Linked DNA regions of Homo sapiens: region 1 is linked to region 2. Evidence: fine-mapped expression QTL. A gene starts in region 2. The other region holds a variant in brackets. All regions are shown on one strand. Distances are between the middles of the regions.

The links. PIP is the estimated chance that this variant, and not a neighbour inherited with it, causes the effect.
Region 1: its variant is fine-mapped to the expression of DLC1 in fibroblasts (GTEx, PIP above 0.99).

What each region holds. Positions count from the first base shown.
Region 1 is chr8:13,359,553-13,364,941 of GRCh38, reverse strand. All of the region lies in intron 4 of DLC1 (DLC1 Rho GTPase activating protein), which reads left to right. Among named protein-coding and RNA genes, the nearest start is that of DLC1, 150 kb to the left of the region's middle. The variant C/A (reference allele first, on the strand shown) is at 2,784.
Region 2 is chr8:13,512,248-13,517,636 of GRCh38, reverse strand. DLC1 (DLC1 Rho GTPase activating protein) reads left to right here and starts at 2,786. Exons shown (of 18, transcript NM_182643.3): 1 at 2,786-3,035.

The DNA of each region.
Region 1 (5,389 bases), 150 kb after region 2:
CTTTTAAGGACAGAAAACAAACATTGCAATTATATTTTAATAAACTCAAATGAGTTTCTTAGTTGGCAATTTATTTTTATTGTTTTGATGGTTTGTGGGTAAATGAGTTAGAAATATGAGACGACTTTCCTTAAAATATACATGTTTTTACTAAGTTAGGGGAAAAGTTTGGTTTTGATTGGTCTTTGAAAGGCTGACAAAGATGTCTATAGCATGTGATAATTTTAAAAATCACCTATTCCTAGTCCAAAAAAGGGAATCCATGTAAGCTTATGTGCTTGCATGGTTCATGTACCAGTATGTAGGGTCAGTAAACAAAAGGGGAGATAGAAGTATCATTATGCAGGCCTGCTGTGGTGGTTCACACCTGTAATCCCAGCACTTTGGAAGGCCAAGGCGGGAGGATCACCTGAGGTTGGGAGTTCGAGACCAGCCTGAGCAACATGGAGAAATCTGTCTCTGCTAAAAATACAAAATTAGCCTGGCGTGGTGGCACATGCCTGTAATCTCAGCTACTCAGGAGGCTGAGGCAGGAGACTGGCTTGAACCTGGGAGATGGAGATTGTAGTGAGCTAAGATCATGCCACTGCACTCCAACCTGTGCAACAGAGCAAGATTCCATCTAAAAAAAAAAAAAAAAAGTTTCATTACCCAGAGAACTGGAAACTTAAAAATAGCTTTAACTACGAAGAGGGAGCAAACTAGGTAAGCAGATCTGAAGAGGAAGGTGATGGGCTGACATTCTATGTAGAGTTCAGTGTGTTACTGAAGAATCTGGACAAGAAATCTTCTTCTTAGTTGTTCTCTGGCTTTCCTTGAACTCCTTTCTCTCTTTCATTCTCCTGCCTCTTTTCTCTAAAGCTGAAGTCACATGCATGCGTGTGCACGTGCGCACACACACACATACACACACACCCCTACCTCTCCCTGCTATCACTCAAGTTATAACAAACAAAGAAACCACTGTAGGAATTTCACATTTCAAAGAGCTTCTTAGAGCGTAGAAAGAGTTAAGGGAGTGTGTACCTTTATACCTGGTTTTCTTTAGCCAAGTAAAGCAAATGGCACACAAGCATACAGCTTTTGTTCTTGATGGCTCCAGTTATCATTTTGGTACCAAATCTAAGATCCAAATGAAATCCAGTTTTGCAATCACCAAATACTGAGAAATGTTTCAGCATGCTTGGCGACCTTAGATTTTGCTGGACCTACAATGGAAAATAAAGTTGTAGGATATTTTTGCATGCTGGTGATTTTTTTCCTTTTGGTTTTTTTTGTTTGTTTTCAATTTTATGGGGGAGAACATGTAAAAATACCTTAACCAATGACTTTAGGTTCTATATTATTGTAAAACAATTTACAATAATTTGCTCTTCACCTCTCTCATGCCTTCTGTGTAATAGACAGAACAATAACTTTTGGAAAAAGAGCTAGGTTCAGTTTCCACTTCTGTCACCAGCTTTATGACCTGAGACCAATTTGTTATCTGAGCTTCAATGTTGTTAATCAATTAAACAGGCATAATGCTAGGTTCTGATGGACACCATAAAGTTTAAAAAAAAAAAAAAAACACTGCAAATGCTTAGCATTCACGTATTCAATGACATATACTAAGTCTCCACAATATGCATGCTCTGAGAACACAGTGCAGAAACAGACAGAAAGCAATGACTCTGCCCTCAGGGAGCAAATATACAAGTGGCAGAAAGATAACAAACTACAAAGAAATCCAAATTAAAATACAGAAATACTTTCAGGTTAGTTCCATGGGCTCTCATGTGTAGACATTAACAGAATTAGTAATTTACAAATATTTGTGTGATGTTTGTCTCATTAATGTTTACATCCCCCACAAAGTGTAGGCTCTGTGATGGCAAAGACCAATATTGTATGCCCATATCTAGCACACAGTAGAAGGGTAATGCACAATTACTGAATAAATGAATGCACGCATTGTGATAAGGGAATAGAAAGATGTAATCGAGAAAACAGAGATGTGGGGAGTAACATTGGTAGGATGGTCTGGAAAGGCCTCTCTAGGATGCTGGAACACTTAAGTGATGAGAAGAAGCCAGCCATGTGGTTGGAAAAAAACAAAACAAAACAGAAGAGAATTCTAAACAGGAAATATCCGGGGCAAAGGCCCTGAGACAGGAAAGACAGTAGAATGCTTAGAGAACGGGAAGGGGCCAGTGTGGCTGATGCAGACACCAGAGACAGAGATTATGGTAAATTTGAGTTTTATTGTAAATATAATACAAGTTCCCCTTCCCTCTTCCACACCCCCCTTGTTTATAGTTTTGTTTTAGTAACAAGATTAACATCCATTGAAAAATTAGGCAACAATACTAGATAATAGACCATTAATTATGAATTGCAAGAAACAGATGTCCACGTTCAGGAGTGGAAGGGATGTGAGCTAATGAAGGCAGGAAAGGTTAACCGACATAAGAGTTTCACTCTAATTCCAGGCACTGCCTCAAAATCATTCCACTATTGGGCACTTGGATCCCCACCATACAGAGTGCCCGGGAATCTAACTGCAACCAGACAAATGTCCTAATTTCACGCTTTGCTGCCTCCTCATTGGCAGATGTCAAAGAAATTTTTCCAAGCCAGACTCTATGATGTCCCCAAAACACTGGGCTCTTTCTCCAGTTTTACTGGTGAACTTCCAGTAAGTCATCTAAGCTGTATTGCTCAGCTTCCACATCCTATGAAGTGTCATCGAGGTCATCTTCCCTGCAGATGTTGTCTTCAGCTTCCCAGACTCACTCTGTAGA[C/A]CAGTATGTGCCAACTCCTCTCTGCCTTGCAAAATGGTTCCAATTAAGCCACTGCTCCCACTTTCCTCCTTCAGAGCCTGAGGCTGGAAAGTTCTGCTGTTTTCTCAAGTTTAGTGGTTGACATCTATTGTGTCTGGCTGCTCTTTGACTCCACTTTTGAATTTATTTCTTTGGTTTTGGGAAATTCTGTCCTTCCTCTTCTTCCTGCCTTGACTATATGGGAAATCTGTCTCAGCTTGGCCTAGCATTCAGATCACTATTTAGCCCAGTGCCCAGCACCTAATGTCATGACTTACTTATAGAAGATTATTGATATATGTACTAAATAAGAAGTTAGGCAGCAACGCCTACTGTCAGCCCTTTTCAGTTCTTCCTTGAGCAAGAAGCTTGATTCTACTTTTTCTTACCCTAACAGAAGGGACATTAGATTTTGGTAGGGAAAACTTGTCTAAAAGTTCATAAATATCTTGTCCAGACCTATCTTTGAAATATAGGAAATAATAATATGTAAAGGGGACTTTTTAAACACATTCTACTTATTTAAAATGATACCTAAAATGTCCATTAAGTAACATTGAAAATACCTACACTGGAGCAGGGCGTGGTGGCTCACCCCTGTAATCCCAGCTACTTGAAAGGCTGAAGCGGGAGGATAGCTTGAGAACAGCAATGCAAGACCAGCCTGAGTAACATAGAGGAACTTGTCTCAAAAGATAAAAAAGAAATTAAAAAAAAAATTAGCAGAGCATGTTAGCATGCCCCTGTAGTCCCAGCTGCTCAGGAGGTTGAGTCAGGAGGATTGCTTGAGCCCAGGAGTTCGAGGCTACAGTGAGCTATTAAGATGTTTGCACCATTTCACTCCAGCCTGCACGACAGGGTAAAATCCTGTTTCTTTCTCTCTCTCGTTTTGTTTTGTATTGTTTTTCTGAGACAAGGTCTCACTCCGTCGCCCAGGCTGGAGTGCAGTGGTATAATTAAGGCTCACTGCAGCCTCAACCTCCCTGGCTCAGGTGATCCTCCTACCTCAACCTCCTGAGCAGCTGGTACTACAGGCACATGCCAACACACCCAGCTACTTTTTGTATGTTTTTGTAGAGACAGGGTTTCGCCATGTTGCCCAAGCTGGACTTGAACTCCTGAGCTCAAACATTCTGCCCGCCTCAACCTCCCCAAGTATTGAGATCGCAGGCATGAGCCGCTGCAGCCAGCCAATATTGTCTCTTTAAGAAAAGGAAAATACTTGTTTTCTAATATTAAGGTGAAAAAGAAAAAAAAAAAATAATGTGTATAAAACATGAGCCCAGCCATGCAAAACAATTAGCATTGAAAGAAGGAAACAAACCAAACTGTTGACAATGTTTGTATGTGGGTAGTAAGATTATGAATTTTATTTTTTATTTTTTTCATTGTTTTCTACATTTCATATTTTCTAAGACATGGATTACTTGTATGATCAGAAAATTACATTATTTATAAAAGAAAAAAAAATCACACTATGCAACCAAAAAACACAGAGTAAGTCTTTCCTTGCTGATTCTCAGTGGTTCTCAACCTCCAGCATATTAGGATTAACTGGAGAATTTATAACAATCCCAATGCCCAAGCCCAGCGCTGTATCAATTAAATCAGAAACAGAAACCCAGGCATCAGTATTTTAAGTTTCCCAGGTGATGTCAATGTGCAGCCATGGTTAAGAACTACTAGTAGAGGAAATGGGTAGCTTAGATCAATGGTTTGCAACCCTGGCTACAGTGATAATCTCGTGGGGGGCTTTTATAATACCAATATATGCTCCCTAATACATTTCTGATTTCAGTTGGTTTGCAGTGAGGCCCTGGCAGTGGTAGATATTAAATTTCTCCATGTGATTCTAATGTGCAGGCTGGTCTATTGAGTGTTCGTTCTGTGTAGAGCTCTGTACTGAGTGTTTTATGTACATTACCTTATTTAATTCTCAAAATAGTACAACCAGGCAGGTATTATCTTCATTTTACAGAAGAGGAAACTAGAACTCAGACACATGAAATTAATGTCTCAAGGAAACTCAGCTTGCTTGAACCCAGCTTGTCTGTCTCCTGTGGGGATAGGCAAAGAAAGAATTCTACCCAGTTGTGTGGAAAGCTTTATAAATACTATAATGCGGAATCCAACATACTCACTTTTAAAATGTCGATGGAGTAGCTCTTTATAAATCTTATTAACAAGTGTCTCATTTCTGTCAAACCCTGTCAAGTGTAAATGCATCTGCAATATCCTGAACATTTATGATTTTCATTCCATAATGGCCTGAATAGCATGAGAACTTAAATAACTTCCAACCTGTTCAAAGTTACAATCACATCTCATCGCTTAACTTTATGACACCACCCAACTTCTCTGGTGAAATCATAGTATGGTTCCTATTCATTTTATTTTATATCATTTTATGTCATTATTATATATAACAAGCAATTAAGTATACTTTGAAAATTCCTTAAATGATTTTGCAAGATTTCTTCAGTAACTGGAAGCATTCTTGGATGTCATGAAACTACCCTTATGATTGCTGTTGTAGACAAATGTCACATCACTGGATTTGTGGAGTTTCCTTTCCAATGCATCGTTTA
Region 2 (5,389 bases):
AAATATTTTGAACTCCTTCAGTGTTCCTGACACAATACTAAGTACTTAGGAAGTTTTCTCACTATTTATCTTTACACTCATATTTGGTAAAGCCTTTATAAGACTATAAGATCTGAGATTTGTTTGGAATCAAGCAACTCAACAATGAAAAATAAATATAAGTAATTAAAGATTTGGGAAGTAATCCTATTAATAGAAGAAAACATAATGTATTTTTTGTGTAGAAAAGGGTATGTTTATGAGAAACTTACTAACAAGAGTTTCTAGATATCTAAAAGGCATTTGTGAACAGAGTTTTCTTGTTTTCCCAAGCCAATAGAAATAGAAACAAAACTAAAGTATATGGCGCGGGGTACAGTATTCATGAATAAAATGTAGCTAAGAATTAGCATGATGCTGATATAATATTGAGTAACCACTGTATATCAGTACTAAAGGCAGTGACAGAGATAGAGATATCAAGTTATATTAGGAAAGACATAATATCAGTTCTCATTCCTTTCTTCTCCAGTGTTTTTCTTAGGGAAATAAACATAAATACACAAATATTTCTGCATATAAATTTCATCCTGCTTTCCAATCTATAAGTTATGTGAAATTGTCTCTATTTTTAAAGAGAAACTATTAGAGTTTAAGAAGTCTTCCCAATTTAATAAAGAAATTAAGTGGAAGTCAAGGAAGGCAGTTTATGGAGAAAAAATTAAAGCACAAAGCTTGGAGCTAGAATATCTGAGTTCCAGTGTGGACCTGGGCACTTTGTATCATTTGACTGTGAGAAAATTGCTTCTCAATACTTTATTTGTAAAATAAAACATATGAATACACGCAAAATTGTTGGAAAGATTAAATAGGCATACTGTCAGTAGAAACACTTTGAATATAAATATAAATACTTTTTAAAGAATTTATGGAAGAACAGACTTCTTTCTTGGCCTATGGTTGAAGATTAAATTAAAGAAACCTAAATGCTCATGTTTTTAGTCAATAAGACTTTGATCTAAACTTTTAAAGCTGCTTCTGACCAAACGTTTTTATTTGACTACTTCTCATCTTCAAACTCATGCACAGTATAAGTCATTCTTGCCATCTAACATGGGTCTAATATGGTTCATGATTTGCATTAACTTTGAGAGATTTTAGCTACCTAATAAGGAAAAAAATAGTAGTTAGAACCTTGTGCATCTTTGAGTTATCACCTACCCAATATTATCAAAAAGTACTACAAGATAGCCCTTGTGATATACAGGGATGGAGAATAACAGTGAACAATGAAAACTACTTACAATTTCAGAGAAGAACAGGATAGATCTTAGGGCCAACAAGTTTAAGATGTCTTTTACCTCTTTATATGTTACTCATTTTATCACATCCAACTGGAATTATTCTTGCACTTCCTATTATTGAAAGCTTCTAGAAATTTGCAAGAAGCAGATAGACCTAATAATTAATCTGATCATCAGTCCCCCCCCAAAAAAATGCTTGAGTCATAAATAGCAGCGAAATCCATTGATTGTAAATAAAGTAGAAGGGAGACATGACTGAGCCATTTCCACCAAGCAAGATAATTAAAGTCAGAGATGCTGTTTCCTGCTTCCCTGGTATAAACAATGAAGCTGCTCTACTGGCCTCTCCACAGCCTGGATGTCCCAAAACCACCTCCCTCTTCTTTCCTTCCACATTCTCTAAAGAGGATTCTGGGTCATAAAGGAAGGAAAATTGGTGTAACTTTTTTCCTGAAACGACTTCAGCTTCCTCTGTGTTTGTATTTGTGATATCTTATTATAAGACGAGCTAACATCTATTATTAATTGATGCACTAATTAAAGCCATACTTGCAGTTTCCATTAGCTTATTCCCTAAATTCTCCAGAGTTGCCTGTCTGGTTTTAATCAAAACCAAATGGTAGTCCAAATTCCCAACCTGGAGCAGCTAGGAGGAAGTCATTCAAGGGAGGCACAAGAAAGCAGAAAAGATAAACAGATGATAGTTCACAAAATTTGTGACGGACGAAGGATGCAGATACCATGAGCGGCTTTAGAGATGTGATTCAGGAACGCTGCCATGCTAGATGGAAGCAGTTGTAAGTGTTTAATGTCAGCAAGACTCTAATACGATCAAGATGGAGCCTGTCTTCTGCTCCAGCACTGGATTTTTGTAACTGGAGGATTCTGACTAGAGGTAATGCGCTGCTGCATTTGCCATAACACGAACTATTTTAATTCTGTGAAGGATTCTTGTGATCAGAGAGATCTGGAAGAAATCGTTCTATTAACTGGATGCTTGGGATTTTACTTACAGATGGTCTCAGGGACAGAATGAAAAGCTGCAGCATTTCCAATTTTAAGTCATGTTCAAAAAAGGTTTTGCCATTTAGAAGAATTATGGTATTAAGGCTAAATTCATCTTGCTCTCTTAAAAGATCTTTTGAAATGAGAGCAAGCACAGGCATTTTGATTAAGCTGTGCATATACATTTAATATAGTGGAAAGGTTGTGGATAGAGAGAAAACTACGTTTTCTTTCTTTCTTTCTTTCTTTTTTCATAAGCAGTGTGGGATAGAAAAAGCTCTAGGACTTTATGACTCTACAGCTAATCACCTCAAGAGCTTTGACAAAACTCACTTGAGTTCTGTGTAAAATCAGAACTCCTAAAACGCCCAGGCGGCTGGGCTCTCCCCTCCTCCCCTCTCTTCGTACAGCCTTTCTAGCATGCACACTCCTCAGAGGCAGGAAATACTTTCCAGGCAATCTGGGCCTGGTTGTGGAGGCCCCTTTTGCAAAACCTCAGTCTGAATTTAGTAGACAGAAGTCACTAGGAATGCCTTGACAGGATCCTGCCTTAGCTAAGGCTCCCTCCAGCTGCAGAGGGTGTTTTTGTTAGACTCACACACTGCGTGAAACTGCTCAGAATAGAGCCATGATCTCAACCACGAAATGGGAACTTAGATTTTGGAGAAACTAACGGGGACGGACTTCTTTCCTAGCCTGAGTGTTGAGCAGTGTCATGCCTTGGCGTTTCAGCTCCTCGTTGTCTAGGTAAGACGCTATGGACTATCTTTATGCTTTGAGGCGGTCTTTGAAGAGGCAGAAAGATTGAGATAAATGTTAGCATCTTGCACGGAGTTGGTGACTTCCTAGGTTTTAGAGCAAAGCCATAAAATCAGAAGTGGAAAATGTTTGATAAGTAGAAAATTCTGAGTCAATTCGTTTTAGCAAACTGTCAGTTCTAAAACAGGCTCCATATAGATTTAACTCTTTTCCTCCATAAAGTAAGATTTTATTTTTATCCCTTTTTACGTTTAACTTATTTATTAATTGAGCTGTCGGATCAGTTTTCCTATTTCTTGGCATAACGTGAAACAAATACATTTTCTCACACATCAGTGTGAGGTGTAAATGAATTCCTCCCCTACCTTCCTTTGCCAACAGGGAGAGTAGAAAGCACCCGAGTGACTTGTGCTTAATAATCAGTCTCCAAAGAGTATTTTGTGTCTCATTTAAAACTACGAAGATTGAATTTCTTATTATTTTACCCAAGCCAGTTTCAATCATATGTCAAGCTTCTCCTGTACAGCTTAAAAGGTTCATTTAAAAAAAAAAAGTAAACACGTGAAATTTCAGGAATTATTTCTGTCCTAAATAGTATTTAATCTGAGTTTTGGAAATTTAAATGTCGGAATCGAATTTAGTTTATATTAATTTTCCTGGATTCACTGCTTGCTCCGGTCACATTTTGTGTAATATTTTGAATAACTGAAGTCAATCTCAATGACACTGACACTCATTATAACTCTTTTAAGGCAGCCAGAAATCACTCCAGTCATATGGAAACTGTTTGTGTCCTTACTTATGTAATCGTAAAATTACATTTCCACCTGACTGTAGTCTCTTCAAGGTAATCTTAAATGTTTAAATGTACAATATATTAGAAAAGAAGTTTAGTAATGACCGAAAAAGTGTGGACTTATAATGCATAAGATACTGTTATATTTCTGAATATTTATAATAAAATTCATCATTTTATAGAAATAAAATGGTACATAAAGGGAAGAAATATTCATGTACATTTTCAAATCTATTAGATGAATACAAAATATACTAAGTGAAAGATGGAGAGCTATTTTGACAGTTGGATCATAAGAAATGAAGTAACTGTTTTCATTATAAGTTTTTATATAGTACAAGGTGACCATCTGCTATATTAGCTATTCTCAAATTTTATGCTAGAATAACTTATATTGATAAATTTTAACTATTCACTGACAATTTGTGTTAAAACTTCTTAAATATGAGAAAAAGAATCTACTTTTTATATATGTGGAAGATAAAATACTGACTTATCTAAATTATGATTTAATTAAAATCTCCAAATGGAATTTCAGAGAAGGAAAGAACATAAGAGATGGTCTCCTCTAACAATGGCTTGAGGTTGTCTACAAGAAGCTGAGAAATGGGATTTAAAAGTGACCTGTCCAAGGTCACACCTCTAGCTAATAGAAGAGAGGACAGCAGAACCACAGTGCCCTGATTCATAATTCAGATACCTTTTTATCCCATCATCCTGCCCTCCCATAATAATTATGCATAATGAAGTATGAACATGTCCAGTAGAAGGGTGCTTTGCAGACAGAAATTTGCAGTTCCTCTAATTTAAAAAAAAAAAAAAAAAAAGGTAAAACTGTCACCAATGTTAATTATGTGGGGAAAAAAATCCTAACTTTAAAAAAAAATCAAATCAGTATGCCTTCAATAAACACTTTACAGTAGTAACTTGCTTTATGACTATTTTATTATATTTGATGTTTATGTCAAGAAAATCAATCCATATGCTAATAATTATATTAATTTTAATCTGATGTTTCTTTAAAAATAGGGCTAGAAAACAGCTTTTCTAATTTATATCCTTGTACTCAAATGATCATAATGAAACTGTCCCAACCAATGACTTTCAGAGGCAATTTTACAGCACCACCCCCAGGCATCCTTTCTTCTATCTAGCCTAAATCATTGTTGCTGTAGCTTATTTCAAGTTCTATGTGGGTCTTTTCACTAAATATATAAAAAGCCTAAGTTGACATATAAAAAATATGTTTACATTTCTCCAGCATGTTTGCAATCCCTTAATTGATTTGTATGTCTGCTCTAAGCCTTCTACAAAGTCATTTAATTGTAGAATGCAGAATTTTTACAGTATATAAATAAATGTCTGAACAACGTGGTATAAAATGGGAGCGTGGGCTATTTCATCTGCATCATACTTCATATATGACAATATTTGTTGCTGTGTGTGCTGAAGCAGTATACCTTCTCAGACAAGACCCTTTCTCATAAATGTAACACATTCCATTTCTAATAGCTGCCATTTCCTTAGAGAGAATGTGTCACGATAC